Linked DNA regions of Homo sapiens. The protein of the gene in region 1 purifies or fractionates together with the protein of each later gene. This does not show direct contact. Each region holds a gene or a part of one and is shown in the gene's direction. Other genes may lie near its edges.

The links.
Region 2: the proteins of ZBTB44 (region 1) and SUPT6H purify together in Homo sapiens (affinity purification with mass spectrometry; one large-scale study listed by BioGRID and IntAct). This does not show direct contact.
Region 3: the proteins of ZBTB44 (region 1) and RFC1 purify together in Homo sapiens (affinity purification with mass spectrometry; one large-scale study listed by BioGRID and IntAct). This does not show direct contact.
Region 4: the proteins of ZBTB44 (region 1) and USP36 purify together in Homo sapiens (affinity purification with mass spectrometry; one large-scale study listed by BioGRID and IntAct). This does not show direct contact.
Region 5: the proteins of ZBTB44 (region 1) and AHCYL2 purify together in Homo sapiens (affinity purification with mass spectrometry, with the first as the bait; one large-scale study listed by BioGRID). This does not show direct contact.
Region 6: the proteins of ZBTB44 (region 1) and ARHGEF2 purify together in Homo sapiens (affinity purification with mass spectrometry; one large-scale study listed by BioGRID and IntAct). This does not show direct contact.
Region 7: the proteins of ZBTB44 (region 1) and MYH14 purify together in Homo sapiens (affinity purification with mass spectrometry, with the first as the bait; one large-scale study listed by BioGRID). This does not show direct contact.

The regions. Positions count from the first base shown.
Region 1 is NC_000011.10:130,308,418-130,311,917, reverse strand, and holds part of ZBTB44 (zinc finger and BTB domain-containing protein 44), read left to right. Parts: intron 1-1,443; exon of another isoform or gene 1,444-1,738; intron 1,739-3,500. UniProt on the Homo sapiens protein: May be involved in transcriptional regulation.
Region 2 is NC_000017.11:28,700,205-28,703,179, forward strand, and holds the end of SUPT6H (transcription elongation factor SPT6), read left to right. Parts: coding exon 1-46; intron 47-141; coding exon 142-308; intron 309-736; coding exon 737-924; intron 925-1,234; coding exon 1,235-1,421; 3' UTR 1,422-2,475; downstream 2,476-2,975.
Region 3 is NC_000004.12:39,310,863-39,314,362, reverse strand, and holds part of RFC1 (replication factor C subunit 1), read left to right. Parts: intron 1-1,431; coding exon 1,432-1,611; intron 1,612-2,813; coding exon 2,814-2,918; intron 2,919-3,500. UniProt on the Homo sapiens protein: Subunit of the replication factor C (RFC) complex which acts during elongation of primed DNA templates by DNA polymerases delta and epsilon, and is necessary for ATP-dependent loading of proliferating cell nuclear antigen (PCNA) onto primed DNA.
Region 4 is NC_000017.11:78,809,815-78,813,314, reverse strand, and holds part of USP36 (ubiquitin carboxyl-terminal hydrolase 36), read left to right. Parts: intron 1-313; coding exon 314-455; intron 456-3,500. UniProt on the Homo sapiens protein: Deubiquitinase essential for the regulation of nucleolar structure and function. Required for cell and organism viability.
Region 5 is NC_000007.14:129,392,530-129,396,029, forward strand, and holds part of AHCYL2 (adenosylhomocysteinase 3), read left to right. Parts: intron 1-3,500. UniProt on the Homo sapiens protein: May regulate the electrogenic sodium/bicarbonate cotransporter SLC4A4 activity and Mg(2+)-sensitivity. On the contrary of its homolog AHCYL1, does not regulate ITPR1 sensitivity to inositol 1,4,5-trisphosphate.
Region 6 is NC_000001.11:155,958,048-155,961,547, reverse strand, and holds part of ARHGEF2 (rho guanine nucleotide exchange factor 2), read left to right. Parts: intron 1-3,151; coding exon 3,152-3,228; intron 3,229-3,500. UniProt on the Homo sapiens protein: Activates Rho-GTPases by promoting the exchange of GDP for GTP.
Region 7 is NC_000019.10:50,276,622-50,280,121, forward strand, and holds part of MYH14 (myosin-14), read left to right. Parts: intron 1-135; coding exon 136-280; intron 281-1,461; coding exon 1,462-1,668; intron 1,669-3,415; coding exon 3,416-3,500. UniProt on the Homo sapiens protein: Cellular myosin that appears to play a role in cytokinesis, cell shape, and specialized functions such as secretion and capping.

The DNA.
Region 1 (3,500 bases):
AGATTTGGTCAGTAGGAACCATTTCAAGCTGACTATTGTGTGTCTTGACACCCCTGCTCCCCATTAATCTTGGAGTGCTTTCTGACACGAGTTACTCCAGGGTTTATCTTATACTTTCTTTGCTCACCTCTGGAAAGAGCTGTTTATCCAGGGAGTCTTGGTTCTTTTTAATGAGAAATCGTATATAGAAACCAAGTTCTGGATGTTTGGCATATTCGTTGCTGCTGCAGTATCATTGCTTCTAGGTGCTTTGAGAGGAGAGAACTAAGAAAAAGGTTTTTGCTTGTTTAATCATGAGTTCAGAGTGATATTCCAATTCCTATTTAACAAGCAGACTTTTTCTTCCTTGACTCTATATTTGTCTCTTGTCTTAAATGAAAATCTTGGTTTTTAATACAGTTAATAAACTGGCCAAGCACAGTGGCTCATGCCTGTAATCCCAGGACGTTGAAAGGCCGAGGTGGAAGGATTGCTTGAGCCCAGGAGTTCAAGGCCAGCCTGGGCAACATGATGAGACCCCATCTCTATAAAAAATAAAAAAATTAGCCAGGCGTGGTGGTGTGTGCCTGTGTTCCCAGCTGCTCAGGAGGCTGAAGCAGGTGGATCACTTGAGCCCAGGAGGTTGAGGCTGCAGTGAGCCATGTTCATACCCCACTGCACTTCAGCCTGGATGACAGAGTGAGACCCTGTCTCCAAAAAAAATAATAAACTTATTTGCTTTCTCCCACTGTATACATAAAATCATTTTAAAATTATAGTGCTGGTATTGCTAATACCAATAAGCTTCATGTAGTTTAAGATTTCTTTGCATTTATTTTCGTATTTAGACTATATTGCATGAAGAATGTATAATGAGTACTGTGTTCAAAAGTCACTTGAAATACTTTTCTCTGGTTATGCTACCAATTTGATATGGTTCATAGGTTTCAGTTTTTACTTAGGATTTTATTTTTGAATATGTAAAGTATGTACATAGTGTAGAAGTCAAAATAATGTTTTAAAACTATACTTGGATTAGCCGGGCATGGTGGCACATGCCTGTAGTCTCAGCTACTTGGGAAGCTGAGGCAGGAGAATTGCTTGAACCGGGGAGGTTGCAGTGAGCCAAGATTGCGCCATTGCACTGCAGCCTGGGTGACAAAGCGGGACTCCATCTCAAAAGCAAAACAAAACAAAAAAAAACTATATTTGGATAAACCTCATTAAAATTAGTTTTTAAAGATGAAGTATTGTTTACCTTTACCATACTCCTTTTAGTATCTACTACATTCTCACATCAAGCTCAGAAGAATTAGCAATAGACAAATTATGTTATGTGAAGCCACATAGAAGTACTTTTAAATTTTAAAATTAGATTCTGCTTCCTCTGGCAAAGAGAACTAAGACTAGTTTTTAGAAGTTAGCAGAGAAGTGGATTCCATGCTTACTTTTTTTTTTTTTTAAAGACGGGGGATTTACTGTGTTGCTCAGGCTGGAGTGCAGTGGCTATTCACAGATGTGATCCTACTACTGATAAGCACGGGAGTTTTGACCTGCTCTGTTTCTGACCTGGGCCACTTCTCTCATTAGGCAACCTGGTGGTCCCTCACTCCCTGGAGGTCACCATGTTGATGCCTAATTTAGTGCAGACACCCAATCGGCATAGGATACTACAGTCCAGAACTTCTGGGCTCAAGGGATCTTCCTGCCTCAGCCTCTTGAGTAGCTGGGACTACAGGCACACACCACTGCGCCCAGCTCTTTTTCTTAAATAGTGATTTAAAATAGTGATAGATTCTCATTATGTTGTCCAGGCTGATCTCTCAAACTCCTGAGCTCAAGTGATCCTGCTGCCTTGGCCTCCCAAAGTGCTAAGATTACACATGTAAGCCTGTAGCCGTAGGCCTAGATACCATATTTTTAAATAAAAATTCCATAAAAATAGAACTGTAGCTTTTACTTAAATCATGTCTTTAAAGAGGCAGGTAGTTGGTAGAGGTTTTATGACTCCATCTACTTTTTTAACTTTTTTTTTTTTTTTTTGAGATGCAGTCGCCCTCTGTTGCCCAGGCTGGAATGCAGTGGCTCGATCTCAGCTCACTGCAATCCACCTCTGCCCCCTGGGTTCAAGCGATTCTCCTGCCTCAGCCTCCCTAGTAGCTGGGATTACAGGCATGTACCACCACGCCCAGCTAATTTTTGTATTAGTAGAGATGGGGTTTCACCATGTTGTCCAGGCTGGTCTCGAGCTCCTGACCTCAAGTGATTCACCTGCCTCGGCCTCCTGAAGTGTAATCCTGGCCTCCTAAAGTGCTGGAATTACAGACGTGAGCCACTGCGCCCAGGTGACTCCATCTACAACAAAACTGGCATAAATATGCTATGTACAGATAAAAAGGCATTTGGATATGTGATCAGTGGAGATAACACATTTTGTTTGGGTTGGACCAAATTTGATATAAATTCATAATTATGTGATCTCAAATGAAGTTTTAAGAGGGAGCAGTGTTCATCTAAAGTAAGCAGAGCACAATTAGGCAGTTTATCAGCCTCCTGTCAACCAAGTGCTGAAAAGCAAAACTGTGCCTGTAGTGTGTTTTCCTGTGTTCATCCTCACTGTCATAGGTCACACTAGCTGAGGCTGGCGTTGCAGGTGGTAAAGGAATTACCAAGGCAATTGTAGGTAAAGAAGGGCAGATTTATTAGAGAAAGTATGAAAGTAGGTTGGTTGCAAGGGTGCAACGGGCAGATCAGCAAGAGAGAAGCTGACTGCCAGGAGACAATGGCTTGCTGGGCATGTTACAGGATGATGCTTCTGCTGTGTGCTGCAGAGAGGGCTATGTGCAGTACTGATAAGGCCAAGGTTGCAGTGAGCTAACTTGCATTTTTCTGTCAGCTGAGAGTCTGGTGATAAGTTGAGTGCAGAAAGCTTGTGAGTTATTTGTGCAAGAGGGCTGTGTGTCTTGGACCATGAAGAAAGGCAGACTTATACCTTATCTGCTTTTTCTTTTTGCTGTACCCTTTTCCCACCCGCCTGACTCCTTTTCCCTTACTAGGACTCCACAATCACTGCTTTCAATAACAGAGTGAACATCTAGTTCCATTAGGGAGTGGAGTGGGAAGATGGAGAATGCTTGCACTTGGACCCATTCACCCTCATTCTGTCTTTAATCTCAGTAAAATACATACACTACCCAAGGTTCTTAGAACATATAAGGTGATGAAGAAGAATACTATAAACAGTTGCATGGGTATGTGTAGCCATGTAGCAGCTAGAACCTGTTGTGTAGGCTGAATGAACTAATACAGTGTTGATAATAATGCTAACATTTGTTATGCCCTTTCTGTATGCCAGCTGTGCTAAACATTTTATACATTATCTTATTTAAATCTCACATTAACACTTTGACATTGCTACTAGTATCTTATTTTGCAGTAAGGAAACTGGTATCTAAAAGCATTAAATGACTTGCCTAGAGTATCACAATAAGTGGCCGACCCAGGTTTCAAATTCAAGGCTG
Region 2 (2,975 bases), on another chromosome or scaffold:
ACACCTGCCTCTATCAATGCTACCCCAGCCAACATCAACCTTGCAGGTGAGGAGCTTGAGCCTGGGACTGGAGGTGGGAAGGATGGAGCTAAAGGGACTTTCACCTCTAACATGCCCCTCCCCACCTCTGTGTGCTTACAGATCTGACACGGGCTGTGAATGCCCTGCCTCAGAACATGACTTCACAGATGTTCAGTGCCATTGCTGCGGTGACAGGCCAAGGACAGAACCCTAATGCCACCCCAGCCCAGTGGGCCTCCAGCCAGTACGGCTATGGCGGCAGTGGAGGCGGCAGCAGTGCTTACCACGTATGTGGCTTGGGGAGGAAGCTCCCTGTGCAGGGTGGGGCCCATAGACTGCCCTCTCGCATTGCCCACAAGGGGCTTCACATGCACAGATGGGGCTGCCACGGCCTTGGTAACTGTCTCCAACAGATATTTCTTGTCCTTAGGCCCATTTGAAGGGGAAGAGGGTAAGAGAGGGCATAACCTTTCCACGGGCCTTTGGGATCTTTGGAACCCGCAAGCCACCAGAAAGTTGACATGGTCAGGACCAGTGGGCACCACTGTGTGCTCGGTGCTGACCTGCAGGCTTCCCACTGCTGGTCAGAAGCACATACTCAGTGGAAGATCATCTGGAAAGCTTTGCTGAGCCCACCCTTGCGCTTACCCAGAATTCACAGCAAGGCCAAACAAGCCCCACACCCATCCCTATTTAACTGTTCATGCCTCTCCAGGTATTCCCAACGCCAGCCCAGCAGCCAGTGGCCACACCACTAATGACCCCTAGCTACTCCTACACGACCCCAAGCCAGCCCATCACCACCCCTCAGTACCACCAGCTCCAGGCCAGCACCACCCCACAGTCGGCCCAGGCCCAGCCCCAGCCCTCTTCCAGCTCCCGGCAACGGCAGCAGCAGCCAAAGTAAGTATCTGGATGGTGGCACAGTGCAGGTCAGTGGTAGGGGCAGGTGTTGTCAAGAGGCCGAAAGGCTTAGCAGAGGCAGGTGCTCTGGATCCTCTGAGGGCCCTGACCACATGATATGCCAGGAACACTAGTTTCTGGGTGAAGACGGAAGAGGGCAGTATGGCAGCCAGCTGCTGCTGTATCTGCCTTATCCCAGTAGAGGGGCTGCTGCCCATAGGTATGAGGTTCCTTTCTGCAAGGGTACAGTGATTGGTGGGAAGACTTCCTTCTAGCAAAGTCCCAATCTCAACTTTTCTTCCCCTCCCAGGTCCAACAGCCATGCAGCCATCGACTGGGGAAAAATGGCGGAGCAGTGGCTGCAGGAAAAGGAGGCAGAACGGCGGAAACAGAAGCAGCGGCTGACACCTCGGCCCTCCCCCAGCCCCATGATCGAAAGCACCCCCATGTCCATTGCTGGCGATGCCACCCCACTCCTGGACGAGATGGATCGGTAGGGGGCCTGCTCCTCGGACTCTGGTTACCTCTGAGGCTGGGAAAGGCCTGGCTGCCCACTGCCTCCCTCCCTGCCCCTCCTTTTATGTCCATAAAGTGGCGTGAAGTGAGACGTTCTCTTTGGTGGTCAACCCGGATGGGTGACAGGCTGGATGGCCTTGTGAACTTGAGCTCAGTGTATGCTAGGCAACAATTCTCCCGCTCCAGACCCTCACCGACCACCTGTCCTGGGACCAGGCTGGGAGGGGAGTGTGGCAGGGAGGAGGAAGAGGAAGGTGAGAATGAGTAGAACAGTTTTGTATTCTACTCCCTACAAGCCATTTTGAACTTCTGCCCTCACCGGACTCTGGGCTGTGACTGGGGCACCAAACTCAGCACATGAGTCTCCCCTAGCTCTCGTGGGGAGAGGGATGCTATTTATTCAGTTTGGGGCAGGAGGGAGAGGAGGGAAAGTATTTCTGACCCTGATGCCAACAGCCGGGTGGCTGTCCAAGCAGGATTGCAGGGGACACAGGGAAGCACTGCCCAGCCCCTGCCTGGCTGCCCTTTCCCCCCTGCTGCTGCCACCGCTTCCTGCCTGTCATTTGAATAAACAGTGTTTCTATTGAGCTCTTGCCAAAGCCTCTCTCTCCAACTCTCCAGCTCTTTGAGGGGTGGCTTTCAAAGCAGTGTTTGGAGCTCCAAGGACTCCCCTGACTCCCTCTTCTGATCCATCAGAGGCAAAGATTCATAGACTAGAGGCAGCTTCTACATCAGACTGCCTGGGGCACATCCCTGCTCTACTTCCCAGCCGGGTGACCCTGTGCCAGTTCCTGCTGCCTTTCAGCTGGCTTTCTTACCTGTAACATGGAGATAGTGATACCTGCCTCATCAGCTGCTGTGAGGACCAAGGCAGCGTGTGCAAGCTCCTTGGCCCAACGCCTGGTACGTCGCAAATGTTACCCGGTATTATTACACCCACTCACTCACCCACAGCACAGCTGCCCCATCCGCCCATGCCTGCTGGTCTTCTCTGGCACCCTGGAGAAAGGCCACAAGTAAATCTGGATTTCTCAACTTGAGCCTCTGCCGTTCATCTCTTCCCTTTTCCCAGCTGGGCCTTGGTCTCTTGCAAGCTCTCAGCAGTAAGGTGTTCCTGCCCCAGGATGGGGCCCTGCTCACCTGCTCCCCTCCAACACACTGGCCCTGGCCCTTTGTCCCTGCCCCACTGCATTTTTTGTTCTGAACTCCTGCCATCCCTGTTTCTGCACAAGGGCTTCGTCTCACAGCTCTGTGAGTCAATGCTGGGAGAGTGGGGCCTCTGGCTCCCTTTCCTTTGCTTGGGGCTCAGCAGAGAAGTCAGAAAAGGCCACTGCTGCCCAGACGTGGCACACTCCCTCCCCTTGTTTTTCTTCATCAAGATCTGGGGGAAGGGGCCAGCTCTGCCAGGAACTCAAGTCAGCTCCCTTCAGCACAAAAGGGCTACAAGGGAGGAGCTAGACCACCAGCTGGGAAGGTCAGTCTCTGGTAGTACCACGAGCACCTTCTGCAGAGCCACTTAGAGGAGGGAAAGGCCA
Region 3 (3,500 bases), on another chromosome or scaffold:
AGATGTTTGGGATATGGGATATAGGGGCTTGCATGTGCAATTTTTCCAGGGTTGTTTTGAGTTTGTTCAGAAGTAGTTAAGTTCCTGTAGTGTTACAGTAGATCATTTCAATCCAAGAACCCATAAAGGCTTCAAGGGACCCTGAGATATTGTTAGTCAAACCTTTTCTTTCCAAGCACCTTCATAGCTGTTTCTTTTTGTCTTCCGAGAAAGATTCTTCATCTGAATGGTGAAGGATTGAACTTACATGGAGGCAGTCTTTGAATTTTGGTTGGCTGCTGCTTTTCAAGCCCATTTTAAGTTTATTAATCTCAATTCTCTATTAAAAGAGTAATAAGTAACTTGGAATGTCATGTATAATTTTCATTTTGTTTGGTTGTATAATTTTATTGAACCATTGCAAAAATATATAACTCAACATAGTTCCAATTAAGATTTAATGTCTTTTCCATCCAGCTCTCTTTGGCAAGTATCTCTTATATTATACATTATGAGAGTTATCTTTCCAATCCAGAGATAATACGATCTTGCCTTTAAGTTACTAGAAGATTGCTAGATTTACTATCCTAGAGTAATGAGCAGAGAGGAAGGCACGAGCTCACACTTGCTTAGCTTTTTAGAATCAAAACTTTCCCTTTTTAACAATAGCAAGAGTTGCCTTTTTTCCCTTTTTTCCCATAAAACAGTAAAAATTTTTTATTAAGCATTATAAGTTGCATTCAGTAGCCTTCAGATATGCCACACCACAATCCATTGGCAGACCATCCAACCCAGCAGCAGTTTGTTCTTGTACAATCCATGAGTTCGGGCAAAACTCCCTTCAACTTACAGTTAAGATCCTACTTAGCTCTTGCGGGCAGGGATTGGGGAATTAGACCTCATTTCTGATCACTAATGTGGTGAAAAGCATCAGAAGTATTTGAAAATGATAAGAAGTGATTCTGATTTTAAAGTACATTGTTTCGAAACATTAACAGAAACATCAAAATGATAGGAGTATACCTGCTTCTATTAAATTCTTGTTGGGAAAGTTCTTAAGAACAAGCAGTTTCCTGAATAGCAAGAGTTTCTACAGATGGATTGCATTTGGTTGTTTATTTATAGTTATGCAAGTTAACTAGTAGTTTAGATATGAAGAGGGCATAATGGAAAATAGTATGAATGGGTAATTTTAATAGCTTTGCTAACAGTGTTGGATGTATGTTTTTCACTGCTTGTTTTGTAAGTTTATTAAACGTTAGCCATATCAAAATTTCTTAGGATCTAATTTCAGGTGGTGCTTATTTGCTGTAAATTTCCAGCAAACTTTCCATGCCAAGGTTATTTATGATGTGAAATGAGAAAAATCAACTTCCTGCAGTTTTGATGCCAAATGTTTCTTTGGAAAGCTACCATGTAATTTCCTCTCTGCTTGAACATTTTGGTTTTTAGGGAGCTGAAAATTGCTTGGAAGGCCTTATATTTGTAATCACAGGCGTGCTGGAGTCTATTGAACGAGATGAGGCCAAGTCTCTAATTGAACGTTATGGGGGAAAAGTAACAGGAAATGTCAGCAAGAAAACAAATTATCTTGTCATGGGTCGTGATAGTGGACAGTCCAAGAGTGATAAGGTGGGTACTGCTTTGTTCTCAACACCATGACACCTCCTGCCTGCCTTGGCACACTCTTGATGTGATTTGCCCTTTACTCAGAGTTAAATGAAGGAAAGAAATAGAAAAGTAATTTCTTGCCTACATTATTTCTTCTCCACAGAAGTGTTATTGGCTCTGACACCAGGATTTTGGTTTTCCAATGGAAGGCATAGTTCCTGTTTACTTGACTTTTTTTTAGTGTATTTAAGTTTAAGTCTTTTTTTATTTTTGAAGATAGAAACAAATGCAGTTTTCTTTTTCTTCCAGTCCGAAGTATTCCTATATATGCCACTGTATACACCATCTTAGGTTTTTTTAAATTGGTGTTTTTAGAAAAAGAATCAGCGGCCTGTTGGGTAGGATTGTGTTTAGCTCCAAACAGCAGAATATCTGATTAACCGTGGATTAAACAGCTGCTAATTTTTCTCACAAGAATTCTGGAGGTATTGCTGGGATAGTTCGGCATCTCAACGATGTGGTTCCTCCATCTGTCCTTATTGTGTTAACTTTTGTCCTCATGCATGTTGCCTTGTGGTTGCAAGGTAGTTGCAGCTCTAGGCATTTAAATTCTTATTCAAGGCAGGAAAAGGGAACAGTGGCAAGTATGTCATAAGAGCTGTGACTGGCCTGACGAGAGTTTTCCCAGAAACATGTCTTATAGAATTTCACATAAGGCTCATTGGCCAGAGCTGTCACCTGGCCACTCAGAGCTGTATGGGAGGTTGGGAAGAACCAAGACGTTTCTGGTTGCCTTGGACCAGTCATCATTCATCACTTGAAGAAGGACACATTGGAGTTCCATCAGCAGGGAAGAAGGTGGGGGAAATGTCTGCCATATGCATTAAATATGGGAGAAGGTATGAAGAGCTGGTCTTAGGCCCTAGTGGCCATTGCCCCTTTCTAGGGGAGGAAAGGTAAAGCAGTCCACAAAAGTAGAAATGGACCACTTCCCATGCCAACCTGCTACTCTTAGGGAATGTATCTGTTATTTTCTTTCTTTTCAATGTTACTTTTTCAATGAATGTGCTATTTTTTGTTTTTCTTTTTTAATTCCAGTGTTATCTTAATTTACGAATGTGGTTTTTCACCTACTAATAGGCCCTAGAATTTTTTTTTTTGTAAGAGAAGGGAATGGTAGGATGCAGGATGCAGTTTTGATGGTTTACATTTTTAATCAACAGGCCGCAGCCTTGGGGACAAAAATTATTGATGAAGATGGCCTGTTGAATCTGATTCGGACTATGCCAGGCAAGAAATCCAAGTATGAAATAGCAGTTGAAACTGAGGTTCGTATAAAATGAATGTGATTTAAGTTGGTGTATATTAACTTTTTAATTTCATAGACATATGTCTTGGGTGGATACAGGCTTGTTGGCTGAAAGATTAACATCCCTGTCTACCACAAATGGACCACCTTAGTTCCTTTTGAGCTGGAAGACTCTGCTTCAAGATGTCTACTTTGTTGTTTTTCCTTATCTTTGTCAGGGAATATGAGTAGAGAAAGGACAGTATATTGCATATAACATATCTACTTATCAAACTTTCCTTATTTTCCATATTACTATTATTACTACTATTTTTTAATTTTTTGAGACAGAGTCTAGCTCTGTCCCTCAGGTCGGAGTGCAGTGGTGTGATCTCGGATCACTGCAACTTCTGCCTCCTGGGTTCAAGCGATTCTCCTGCCTCAGCCTCCTGAGTAGCTGGAACTACAGATACCTGACACCACGCCTGCTAATTTTTATATTTTTAATAGAGACGGAGTTTCACCATGTTGGCCAGGCTGGCCTTGAACTCCTGACCTCAAGTGATTCACCCACTTCAGCGTCCCAAAGTGCTGGGATTATAGGTGTGAGCCACTGTTCCCG
Region 4 (3,500 bases), on another chromosome or scaffold:
CTGCTTTGTACGTCTCTGCAGAGTGTGGCTGAGGTGTTTGAGGTTCTTGCTTTCTGGTGCATTGAACTCTGATCTTGGAGGAATTCTGACTCTAATTTGCCCTTGCTCTGCTTATATTCAGCAGATACTTGGGGCTGATCTCTCAGCCTCACTGTGGTTGAAAGGCAAAGGGAGATTCCAGAGAAGTGGTTAGGACTGGCAGGGTTTCCCCAGGCCGTGTTTCTGCCTTTGCCCCGCCTTAACTTATTCTAATTCTCTCCGTTTCTGTAATGCCTAGTAAGAGAATTCCCTACTTGTTTTCTTCCTTTGACAGAATTCCAGGCTCTAAGAAAAGTCCCGAGGGCCTCATCTCCAGGACAGGCTCCTCCTCCCTTCCCGGCCGCCCGAGTGTGATTCCAGATCACTCCAAGAAGAACATCGGCAATGGGATTATTTCCTCCCCACTGACTGGAAAGGTATTTGTGAGAATGATGGAGGCCAAAGTGGCTGGTCTTGGTGCTCCTCACAGACCTCCTCACACTTGGGAAGTTGGCCACAGTGGAAGGAATTTGCAGGCAGTTTGCACTATTCTAGTTGATGTTATTTCTTTTCTTTTCTTTTTTTTTTTTTTTTTTTTTCGAGACAGAGTCTCGCTCTGTCATCCAGGCTGGGGTGCAGTGGTGCGATCTCCAATCTCGGCTCACTGCAAGCTCTGCCTCCCGGGTTCCCGCCATTCTCCTGCCTCAGCCTCCCTAGTAGCTGGGATTATAGGTGCCCGAACCACGCCCGGCTAATTTTTTTTGTATTTTTAGTAGAGACGGGGTTTCACCGTGTTAGCCAGGATGCTTTCGATCTCCTGACCTCAGGATCTGCCCGCCTCGGCCTCCCAAAGTGCTGGGATTACAGGCATGAGCCACCGCGCCCGGCCAATGTTATTTCTTAAACTGGTCATCAGCTGACATTGGCTATAGAGAAAGAGGAGACATGAATGAGAAAATTCTGACCCAACAAATTAGAATTGTCATTCACAGATCTGTTCTACTCATGAGACCAGCACCACTTACAGGTGTCGTGACAGGTGTGCCAAGCAAACTTTCTGTGTGCACTCCTTTTATTTCCTTTATAATGCCAAGCAAACTTTTTTTTTTGGAGACAGGGTCTCACTCTGTTACCCAGACTGGAGTACAGTGGCACAATCATGGTTCAGGGCAGGCTTGAGCTCCTGGATTCAAGCCACCCTCCTGCCCCAGCATCCCTAGTATTCGGGACTATCAGTGCACTACCACACCCAGCTAATTTTTAAATTTTGTGTAGAGACAGGGTCTCACTATGTTGCCCTGGCTGGTCTTAAGCTCCTCAGCCCAAGCAATTCTCCTGTCTTGGCCTCTCAGAGTGCCAGGATTACAGGCACCAAGCAAACTCTTAACCGTAAGCGTGTAGGAAAAAATATCCTTTTTTTTTTTTCTTTGAGACGGAGTCTCATTCTGTCGCCCAGGCTGGAGTGCAGTGGCGCAACCTTGGCTCGCTGCAACCTCCACCTCCCAGGTTCAAGCGATTCTCCTGCCTCAGCCTCCCGAGTAGCTGGGACTACAGGCGTGTGCCACCATGCATGGCTAATTTTTTTATTTTTAGTGGAGACGGGGTTTCACTTTATTAGCCAGGATGGTCTCTATCTGCTGACCTCCTGATCCACCCGCCTCAGCCTCCCAAAGTGCTGGGATTACAGACGTGAGCCACTGTGCCCGGCCTGTTCTCACATTTAACGGGGAAAATGTGAGTAGTTTGTACCAATGTTAATTTCCTGATTTGGGTAATTCTGCTGTGGTTATGTAAGAGAGTGTCTTTGTTCTTTGGAAATACACATGGACATATTTTGGGGTAAAAGAACATCATGTCTGCAATTTACTCAAATGGATCAGAAATAGAAATATGTGTATATGCATACGTACATAGTCATACATATATACACACGTACATATACATACAGAGAGAGGATGATAAAGGTTATGTGGTTACAGGTTAACCATTAGGAACTACCCTCTAAGTTACCTTTGTGTGTATTTGAAATTTTCTGCTAGAACTGTTAAGAATTCAGTTTCACTAAGTGGATTCATGAGCAGTTTCCTCATTAGAACACAGTGATCATTTGAAGTGGGGTGGACCCTCTTGATGACTGTTTCTTTTTTTTTTTTTTTTTTTTTTTTTGAGACAGAGTCTCGCTCTGTCACTGAGGCTGGAGTGCAGTGGCGCCATCTCAGCTCACTGCAGCCTCTGCCACTATGCAGCCTCCGCCTCTTGGGTTCAAGCGATTCTCCTGCCTCTGCCTCCTGAGTAGCTGTAATTACAGGTGCCCGCCAGCACTCCCGGCTAATTTTTGTAGTTTTAGTAGAGATGGGGTTTCACCATGTTGGCCAGGCTGGTCTGGAACTCCTGACCTCAAGTGATTCGCTCAGCTTGACCTCCCAGAGTCCTGGGATACAGGCATGAGCCACCGTGCCCGGCCTGGATGACTGTTTTTGATGGATCGTCTTCCTCTCCCTTTAGAATGAAGAGTTGAACCCCACACACAGGCAGTCAGGGCCTTTCACAGTCTGCAGGGGTTTTGGTCATTTACGTACATCTGTATTTCTCTTCACATTAAAGAAAATAGAAGCTGAAATTAGAAGCATTAGAATTGAAGTGGCAGTAAAATACATGATATAATTGCAAAGTTGGTGGTCACTGTAGCCCAGACTAGGAAGTTAGGAAGCAGCCTGGGCCTGGGACTGTGACTCATGTCTGTAATTCCAACACTTTGGGAAGCCGATGTGGGAAGATCAGTGGATCCCAGGAGTTCGAGACCAACCTGGGCAAAACCCTGTCTCTACTAAAAATGCAAAAGCTAGCCAGGTTTAATGGCACGTGCCTGTATTCCCAGCTACTCAGGAGGCTGAGGTGGGAGGATCACTTGAGCCAGGGAGATTAAGGCTGGAGTGAGTCATGATCATACCACTCCACACCAGCCTGGGCAACAGAGCAAGACCCTGTCTCAAAACAAATTTAAAAAGTAGCCTGGGCAACATAGATCCCATCAGCACAGAGAATATTCAGTAAGCTGTTGGGGGAGGATCACTTGAACCCGGGAGGTTGAGGCTGTATGCAGTGAGCCATGATCACGCTGGTGAATTCCAGGCAAGGTGACAGAGTGAGACCTTGTCTACAAAAAAAAGAAGAGGGGGGCCGGGCACTTTGGGAGGCTGAGGTGGGTGGACCATTTGAGGTCAGGAGTTTGAGACCAGCTTGCCAATATGGTGAGACCCTGTCTCTACTAAAAATACAAAAGTTAGCTGGGCATGGTGGCGTGCGCCTGTAATCCCAGCTATTCGAGAGGCCGAGGTAGGAGAATCGCTTGAACCCGGGAGGTGGAGGTTGCAGTGAGCTGAGATTGTGCCACTGCACTCCAGCCTGGGTGACAGAGCGGGACTCCATCTCAAAAAAAGGAAGCAGCCTGGGCAACATAGAAAGACCCCCATCTCCAAAAC
Region 5 (3,500 bases), on another chromosome or scaffold:
ACCTTTTAATACCATCGCCTAGGGGGTTAGTTTTTAACATATGACTCTGGGGGAGGAGAACATACATTCAGACCATAGCAATCCCCAAATACTTTAGTGTGTATTTTCTACAAAGAAGGACATTTTCCTGTACTAGCAGTATAACCATCAGAAGTAGAAAATTAACATTGATTCATTATTACCATCCAATCCTTAGATCCCACTGGAGTTTCGCTTGTTGTTCTGATAATATTTTTCTAACAAAAGAATCCAGTCCATGGTTATATGTCACATTTAGTTGTCATGTCTTTTTAATCTTCATTAGTACAGAACAGTTTCTCAGTCTTTCTTTGATTTTCATGACCTTGACACTTTTGAAGATTACAGATGAATTATTTTGTAGAATTTCCTCAATTTGGATTTTTCTGATGCTTCCTCATTATGAGATTCAGGCTATACATCTATGGTGGGAATTCAGGGAAGTGATATATCCTATCAGGTGACACATGATTTCAGTTTGTCCCAGAACTGATGATATTCACTTTAATCCCTTGATTGAGGTGGTGTCTCCCAGGATTTTCCTCTGTAAAAGTTTTTTTCCCAGTTTATAATTAATATGTTTTTTGGGCTGGGTGTGATGGCTCACGCCTGTAATCCCAGCACTTTGGGACGTCAAGGTTGGCAGATCACTTGAACCCAGGAGTTGAAGACTAGCCTAGGCAACATGGTAAAACCCCATCTCTACAAAAAAATACAAAAGTTAGCCAGGTGTGGTGGCATGTGCCTGTAGTTCCAGCTACTTGGGAGGCTGAGGTGGGAGGATTGATTGAGCCCGAAAGGTCGAGATTGCAGTGAGCAGTGAGCTGAGATTGCACTGCACTCCAGCCTGGGTGACAGAGTGAGACCCTGTCTCAAAAATAAATAAAAATAGAATTAATATGTTTATGTGAGATAGTACTATGAAACTGTAAATATCTCATTCTTTATCTTACTTTGATTTATTCATTATTTTTATTTGTATGGAATCATTGTTTCCTATTTTATTTAATAGGTTATAATCCATTACTATCATTACTTATTTACATGATCATCTTGTTCCCAGTTTGACCAGGGAGAGCCTCTTCAGTGTGGCTTCTGTGACTTCTTTTGTCTTTTGATATATCCCTTTCATTCTTTGAACATTTCCTTGCTTTTGGTACAAGATCACCTAAGCTCATCTTGAACATTCCATGCCCTACTCTTGGAACCAGCCATTTCTCCCAGAATGCCTAGCTCCTTTTAGTGGATCTGGGCACTAATGTGCTCTTTGCTTTTGAAATGTCATTGTTCCCAGATCCTCTTTTTTCCCTCTCCATACATGTAACTGGAGTTCCAGAAGGCAAAGAGGGAAAGAATCCATAGACTCCCATAGACCCCATAGATTTTGAGCACTCCGTTGTGATTTTTTTCTGCCAGTCTTCTTCTTTTTGTATTTCAGTTCAGTAATTTCTTTTTTTGTTGTTGTTTTGTTTTGTTGAGTAGGGTCTCACTGTGTCACCCAGGCTGGAGTGCAGTGGTACAATCATTGCAGGCTCATTGCAGCCTCAAACTCCTGGGCTCAAGCGATCCTCCTGCCCCAGCCTCCCAAGTAACTGGGACTACAGGCATATACCACTATGCCTGGCTAATTTTTTTTAATTTTTTGTAGAGAAGAGATCTTGCTGTGATGCCCAGGCTGGTCTCAAACTCCTGGCCTCAAGCGATCTCCTGCCTCAGCCTTTCAAAGCGCTAGGGTTACAGGCATGAGTCACTGTGCCTGGCTCAGTTCAGTAATTTTTATTGGTCTATCTTCAGGTTCACTGATTCTGTCCTTGGATGTGCCCGGTCTGATGATAAACCTGTTGAAGGAACTTTTAATCTGACTTTTTTTTTTTCCTGGCATTTGTATTTGACTTTTTTTTTTTTTTTTTTTTTTTTGAGACAGAGTTTTGCTCTTGTTGCCCAGGCTGGAGTGCAACGGTGCAATCTTGGCTCACCACAACCTCCACCTCCTGGGATCAAGCGATTCTCCTGCCTCAGCCTCCCGAATAACTGGGATTAAAGGCATGTGGCACCAAGCAGCTAATTTTGTATTTTTAGTAGAGATGGGGTTTCTCCATGTTGGTCAGGCTGGTCTCAAACTCCCGACCCCAGGTGATCTGCCCACCTTGGCCTCCCAGAGTGCTGGCCTTTACAGGCCTGAGCCACTGCACCCAGCCTGTATTTGACTTTTTATTGTTTCCATCTCTGCTGAAATTTTCTATCTATTCATAGATGTTGTCTATCTTTCTCAACTAGATCCTTTAACATAAACATATTAGTCCAGCCTGGGCAATATAGCAAGATCCTGTGTATAAAAAAATATAAATAAATAACATAAACATATTAATCATAGTTATTTTATATCTCCTGTCTGATCAAACATCTGGCTCATCTGAGAGCCTGCCTCTGTTGTTTACTTATTTCCTGACAGTGGGTTTTTTTTTTTACTTTTTGTATGTCCTGACATTTTTAATTGAGTGGTAGTATATTAGTTTTCGTTATAGTCATGAATTGGGCTGAATTTAGAGTTCATTGTATATCAACAAAGGCTTCAAATTCCTCCAGCAGTGGACTGCTATAACCTTGTGATTTGAGGTTACCAAAGGACATTCCTCAGTGCTTCTGCTTTACCCTCAGCCTTCAGCTACTTCTGCACATGTGTGCCACAGAAGTGTCCTCTTTTCAAGTACCTGCCTCATCTGCCGCACTAGACTGCTGCTCTTTGTTTCCTGGGGCTAAGCACACGGTGAGGGCAAGTGGGGTTCTTGGATCTCTGGTGCAGTCTCAGTCTTAGGCAGACCTCTGTGAGGGGCAGGGTTTTCTCAATATTCCTGCCTCTCCTATCTGTAGCAGCCAAACTTTGCCTTGAATCTGTGGTGGGTCTTGGGCAAGACATATTTTCCTGCCCTTCCTGGAGAGCTGGAGAGGTAGCAGATCCTTACTTTGTATCAGTGAACTGTCCTGGGCCCAAGAGGTTTTCCTGTGCCTCTCCCAGAGGCAGAGTTTTTGCTTCTGCCTTCCTCCAGACACAGTGGATCTTTGCCTAGTCCCTAATGGCAGGCCCAATTCCTGCTCTTCCTACAGCTTGAGGCTTTGGTTCCTATGAGAGAAGAGTGTAGGGAAGTGCCCAGGTTTCATGTCTGTTTCTGAGCACAGCCAATCAGCTCCCTGCCCCAGTCTTTGTTTTGAGCACTGGGTGGAAGCCTCTGGAAAACAGCCTGCATGTGAATGGGAAATCTACTTGTGTCTGGAGCTTCAAAAAATTCCACATTGACACACTTTCCCACACCCAGCCTTTCGTAATTGTTCAAAAGTTTAGCTGATATTTTCTTATTCTTATCTGTGGCAGCCATTTCTTCCCCCCATGCACTGCCAAAGGTGAAACAGTCTTCCCTCTCTCTTTAAAAGGATTTGTCACTCTTTGGAGGGCAGTTCACTTCTGTGCTTTATGACCTCAAATC
Region 6 (3,500 bases), on another chromosome or scaffold:
AATCCCAGCACTTAGGGAGGCCGAGGCGGGCGGATCACGAGGTCAGGAGATTGAGACCATCCTGGCTAACACAGTGAAACCCTGTCTCTACTGAAAATACAAAAAATTCGCCGGGCGTGGTGGTGGGCGCCTATAGTCCCAGCTACTCAGGAGGCTGAGGCAGGAGAATGGCGTGAACCCAGGAGGCGGAGCTTGCAGTGAGCCCAGATTGCACCACTGCACTCTAGCCTGGGTGACACAGCAAGACTCCATCTCAAAAAAAAAAAAAAAAAAGAATCAACCTCCCTTTATGCAGCCCATACAACAGTGAGACTCAGTGGGAGAGAAAAATAGGATCTCTGTGGCAGAAAAGCCTGAATTCTGCAGTTAACTTTATGGACCATACAGGGCCTTCCCTATCAGTATTTTATAATTTCTTTGGTCCTTGCATGCCTAGAGAGCTACTAGTTTTACTGAGGAAGACAAAGAAGCTCTCAGACTGGAGGACAGGATCAGTTGATTCCCCCAGCTGGAATCCCAGCTACCAGGGATGGGAGTAAGCAAGAGCTTTGGGGAGCGCAGCCAGAGGAGGCCCAGAGGAGGGGACTGAGCCGGTGAAGGACAGGCAGGGAGGAGAAGAGACAGCAGGGCAGAGGGAGCAGATCAGGGGCCAGGGCACACTTTCCCAGGCTCTCTTTCCAGAATTTGTCTGCACTGGCAAAGTCTTTCTCACCTAAATCAAAGCAAGAGAATAGCAGGCCTTGGCTTTGGGGATGAGATGTGAGGGACAATAGGAAACTGTGATACCTGAGGCCAAAGCCTGCCTGAGCCTCTGTACCTGTGTCATGAAATCCCTGCTCCCTGGGTTTGGATATTGTCAGTCTTCACCAGCCTCTTTCCTTTATCCCTTTCTCTCCTTCCCATCTCTCCCACGCAGCAGCTAAGAATATAAACCATGGGGGATTAAAAATAGCAAGGCTGGAGAGTGTTATTTCTGAAGCATTTAGCAAAAGCCCTCCCCTTCTGTGTGCCCACAGTTTAGTAAAATCCCCAAGGGCAAAGGAGGAGTGTATGTTTTCTCTCTCTTTTTTTTTTTTTTTAGAAACAGGGTCTCGCTTTGCTGCTCAGGCTGGGGTGCAGTGGTGCAGTCATAGCTCACTGTAACTCAAACTCCTGGGCTCAAGTGATCCTTCTGCCTTAGACTCCTGAGTAACTGGGACTACAGACCTGCACCACCACACCCAGCACATTTTTAAATTTTTTGTAGAGATAAGATCTTGCTATGTTGCCTAGGCTAGTCTTGCTCAGACTCCTGGCCTCAAGTGATTCTCCTGCCTCAGCCTCCCAAAGTGCTGGGATTGTAAATGTGAGCCACTATGCCTCGCCCTCTGTTTTCTTGATTGTGACATCCAAGTTTTATGGAATTGATCTTTGTTTCCTCCCTCAGTCTTGGAGTGCTGACCCCATAGGATCTGAGAGCTTGGAGTGTGAAGCAGAGAAAGAAATTGAAGCAGGGGCCTGCTGGGGTTGAAGGAGATGGGTGGGTGAGGGATGGTCTTTCAGTCCTCTGCGAGAGGAAGGAAACTTTCTCCCTCCCTACCAAGCTCAAAATTAGAAGTGGGAATATGCCAGGACAGGGAGAATTTAGGTCAGATAGCCGTAAAGGTCTTCCTTAGTTAGATATTAGAAATGGAATTTAAAGGCTAAAAAATGTGGTCCAGGCTGGGCACGGTGGCTCATCCCTATAATCTCAGCACTTTGGGAGGCTGAATCAGGCAGGCAGATCGCCTGAGGTCCGGAATTCGAGACCAGCCTGGCCAAGATGGTGAAACCCCATCTCTACTAAAAATACAAAAATTAGCCAGGCATGGCAGCATTCACCTGTAGCCACAGCTACTTGGGAGGCTGAGGCATGAGAATCGCTTGAACTCAGGAGGCAGAGGTCACAGTGAGCAGAGATCACACCACTGCCCTCCAGCCAGGGCGACAGAGCGATACTTGGTCCCAAAAAATAAAAAATAGGCCAGGCGCAGTGGCTGATGCCTGTAATCCCAGCACTTCGGCAGGCCAAGGCAGGCAGATTACTTGAGGTCAGGAGTTAGAGACCAGCCTGGCCAACGTGGTGAAACCCCGTCTCTACAAAAATGCAAAAAATTAGCCAGGTGTTGTGGCGTGCTCCTTAATCCCAGCTGCTCAGGAGGCTGAGGCAGGAGAATCGCTTTTTCCTGGGAGACAGAAGTTGCAGTGAGCCAAGATGGCACCACTGCACTCCAGCCTAGGCGACAGAGTGAGACTCCGTCTCAAAAAAATAATAATAGAATCAAATTAAATTAAAAATAAATAAAAAATAAAAGTATGGTCCCTCTTGCTCTGGGGAACCTTATGAATCTCACAAAAATCTTGGACCCTGTCACCCAAAAAAATACACGAGTTATGTTAATATGTAAAACTATTTACACACCTTCAGAAGGTTTACAGAGCCACTGAAGCCTGACATCCCAGGGGGTCTGTAGGCCCTAGGTTAAGAAACCTGAATCAGTCAGGTAGAAAGGGTTTTCTGTAGACACTGAGTGATCCCTGTGGTTCCTGCTAGCCCACAACGCTGTTTTGTCTGATAGCACATGAATCTTTCTGCACCCTGCCCGCCCCCCACCCCCCACCCACACTGTTTTTAAGCTGTAAGAATGTGTGACCAGGCGCGGTGGCTCATATCTGTAATCCCAGCACTTTGGGAGGCCGAAACTGGTGGATAAACCTGAGGTCAGGAGTTTGAGACCAGCCTGACCAACATGGTGAAACCCCGTCTCTACTAAAAATACAAAATTAGCCGGGCATGGTGGCACACGCCTGTAGTAGTCCCAGCTCCTTGGGAGGCTGAGGTAGGAGAATCGCTTGAACCCGGGAGGCGGAGGTTGCAGTGAGCCAAGATTGCACCATTGCACTCCAGCCTGAACAACAAGATGAAAACTCTGTATCAAAAAAAAAAAAAAAAAATAGAATGGGTGAGGTGTGAGAGGTCTGAAAAAGTGCAAGCAGCCAGAGGGAAGAGAGGCCAGGAAGAGGGAAACTGGGAGCTCTAACCTGATGGGATAAGCCTGGTCCTTGGGAAAGAGGGAAGCAGCTGCTCAGACCGTCTAGTGCTGACTGTTCTCCCACCTTCATCCCCTTCCAGATGTGCTAGTGCTGCTGATGACAGATGTACTGGTGTTTCTCCAGGAAAAGGACCAGAAGTACATCTTTCCTACCCTGGTGAGACATTCATTCTTCACCTTTCTCAGCACAGACAAGTGTTTTAGTCTCTTCTTGCTTTCCTGCCCAAGCCCACGAGAGCTCTGGAGTCCCCCAGAGTCAAACAGCTATAATTGTTACTATTACCGTAATAATAAAAAATAAGAGCAGCTCACAGGTACTGTTACTGTGCACAGGCACTTTTACACCTGTGGGAAAAGATTATTTTCGTCCTCATTTTATAGATGATGAAAGTAAAGCTTCAAGTCAGTTAAATAATTTGTCAAGGGTTG
Region 7 (3,500 bases), on another chromosome or scaffold:
CAGATCTCCTGAGGAGCATAACATGAGGCCCTCATATTTTAAGGAAACATGAAAAGGAGAAACAACCAGCTCCCCCAAAGCCCCTGCCTTCCTCTGCTCTGAAATTCCCATCCTCTCTCCTTTCCCCCAATAAAGGTCCAAGAGGGAACAGGAGGTGACGGAGCTGAAGAAGACTCTGGAGGAGGAGACTCGCATCCACGAGGCGGCAGTGCAGGAGCTGAGGCAGCGCCACGGCCAGGCCCTGGGGGAGCTGGCGGAGCAGCTGGAGCAGGCCCGGAGGGTGGGTTGGGGCAGGGGGACAGGGCAGGGGGGCCACGGGGAGGGCAGGGCAGGACGCGGGGTTGGAGGAGGTACCGCTGGCTGGTTCTAGGCTAGCTCATCTCCCTGGGCCCCTTTCCTCACGCATTCATGTGCATCTTTCATTCAGCAAGCATTAATGGGGTGTGGACTATGTTCCAGGAGCATTGCTGGGGAACCAGCCATGAACCCAACAACCAGCACTGCCTTCCCTTGTGGAGCTTTCCTTTTAGTGAGAGAGGCAGAGGGTAAACAATATAAACACTTTCAGTTTATATTGGGGTGATAAGTGCTATGGGGCCATAATGAACAGGAAAAAGGGATCAGAATTCTAAGGCGGGTGAGTTTTTAAGTAGAGAGGCTGTGGAGGTATTCTGCGAGAAGGTGACATCAGGGTAAAAAACTGAGGGAGTGGCCGGGCATGGTGGCTCTTGCCTGTAACTTTGGGAGGCTGAGGCAGGCAGATCACTTGAGGCCAGGAGTTCGAGACCAGCCTGGGCAACATGGTGAAACCCCATCTCTACTAAAAATACAAAAACTAGCTGGGCGTGGTGGCACACACGCCTATAGTCCCAGCTACTTGAGAGGCTGAGGCAGGAGAATCACTTGAACCCAAGAAGCAGAGGTTGAAGTGAGTCAAGATTGTACCATTCCACTCCAGCCTGGGTGACAGAGCAAGACTCTGTCTCAAAAAACAAACAAACAAACAAAAATGGGCCAGACGTGGTGGCTCATGGCTGTAATCCCAGCACTGTGGGAGGCTGAGGTGGGTGGATCACCTGAGGTCAGGAGTTCAAGACCAGCCTGGCCAACATGGCAAAATCCCATCTCTACTAAAAACACAAAAAATTAGCCGGGCGTGGTGGTGGGCGCCTGTAATCCTAGCTACTTGGGAGGCTGAGACAGGAGAATCACTTGAACCTGGGAGGCGGAGGTTGCAGTGAGCAGAGATCGTGCCTTTGCACTCCAGCTTGGGCAACAAGACTGAAGCACTGTCTCAAAAAAAAAAAAAAAATTGGGAGTGAGGGGTGAGCTATTTGTTCACTGGGAGAAGTGTGTTCCAGGCAGAGGGAACAGCCAGTGCAAAGGCCCTGAGATGGGAGTGTGCCTGGCCTGGTCCAGGAAAGGCCTCATAGATCTTTGCTCATCTCCTTCCCACACCAGGGCAAAGGTGCATGGGAGAAGACCCGGCTGGCCCTGGAGGCCGAGGTGTCCGAGCTGCGGGCAGAACTGAGCAGCCTGCAGACTGCACGTCAGGAGGGTGAGCAGCGGAGGCGCCGCCTGGAGTTACAGCTGCAGGAGGTGCAGGGCCGGGCTGGTGATGGGGAGAGGGCACGAGCGGAGGCTGCTGAGAAGCTGCAGCGAGCCCAGGTAAGTGGGGTGGGCAGGGCAGAGGTTTCTGCTGTGTGACCTTGGTGACATGCCTGCCCTCTCTGGGCTTCTATTTGGTCCATATCAAACCAATTGTCTCGTTTGGCTCTTCCAACATAATCATGTACAAGTCTGGGCACAGTGGCTCATGTCTGTAATTCTAGCACTTGGGAGGCCAAGGCAGGAGGATTGCTTGAGCCCAGGAGTTCGAGACCAGCCTGGGCAACATAGTGAGACCCCATCTTCAGAAAAAAAAAAATTTTAATTAGCCAGGTATGCTGGCATGTGCCTGTAGTCCCAGCTACTCAGGGGACTGAGGAAGGAGGATCCCTTGAGCCTGGGAGGTCGAGGCTGCAATGAGCTGTGATTGTGCCACTGCACTCTAGCCTGGGCAACAAAGTGAGATCCTGTCTCAAAATAATAATAATAATACCCAGTACTTTGGGAGGCCGAGGCGGGCAGATCACCTGAAGTCAGAAGTTCGAGACCGGCCTCACCAACATGGAGAAACCCTGTCTCTACTAAAAAAAAAAAAAAAAAAACACAAAATTAGCCGGGCGTGATGGCGCATGCCTGTAATCCCAGCTACTCGAGAGGCTGAGGCAGGAGAATCACTTGAACCCGGGAGGCAGAGGTTGTGATGAGCTGAGACCGCGCCATTGCGTTCCAGCCTGGGCAGCGAGAGTGAAACTCCATCTCCAATAATAATAATAATAATTCACTCATTTAAGATGTGCAATTCAATGGATTTTGGTATATTCACAGAGTGGTATGGCCATCACCATAATCTAATTTTGGACCATTTTCATTATCCCAAAAAGAAAATCCTATACCCTTTAGCTATCATCCCCCACTTCTCCCCCACCCCACCCAGGGAACCACTAATCTCCTTTCTGTCTTTACTGATCTCCCATTCTGGAGATCTTATATAAATGGAATCCTACTATATATGGGTGGCCTTTGTGGCTGCCTTCTTTTACTTAACATAACGGTTTCAAGATTCATCTGTGTTGCAGCTCGTAGCATAATTCCTTTTTTATTTTTTAATTTTTAAAACACCAGCTGGGTGCAGTGGCTCATGCCTGTAATCCCAGCACTTTGGCAGCGGAGGCGGGTGGGTCACCTGAGGTCAGGAGTTCAAGACCAGCTGCCTGACCAACATGGTGAAACTTCGTCTCTACTAAAAATACAAAATTAGCCGGGTGTGGTGGCGCATGCCTGTAATCCTAGCTACTTGGGAGGCTAAGGCAGGAGAATCACTTGCACCTGGGAGGCGGAGGTTGCAGTGAGCCGAGATTGCACCATTGCGCTCTAGCCTGGGCAACAAGAGTGAAACTCTGTCTCAAAAAAACCCCAAAAAACAACAGCACGCAATAGATCCATATACCTTTCTATTGCCGAATAATGCCCGTTGTATGGATATTCCACATTTGTTTATCCATTCGTTTATTGATGGACATTGGGGCTGTTCCCGCCTCTTGGCGATGGTGAGTAATGCCACTGAGAACATTCCGGTACGAGTTTCTGCATAGACCTATGCGTTCATTTCTTTTGGGTATGCACCTAGGAGCGGGATTGTTGGGTCATGTGGGAACCCTATGTTTAAGCATCTGTGGATCTGCCAGACTGTTTTCCACGGCAGCTGTAACATTTCACATTCCTGCCAGTGTGGTAGAGAGTTGAGGCAGATGGGGTCACTGGGTGGAAGCCACGATTGGAGGGCTTCATTCCCGTCCCTTCCCTGCAGGCTGAACTGGAGAATGTGTCTGGGGCGCTGAACGAGGCTGAGTCCAAAACCATCCGTCTTAGCAAGGAGCTGAGCAGCACAGAAG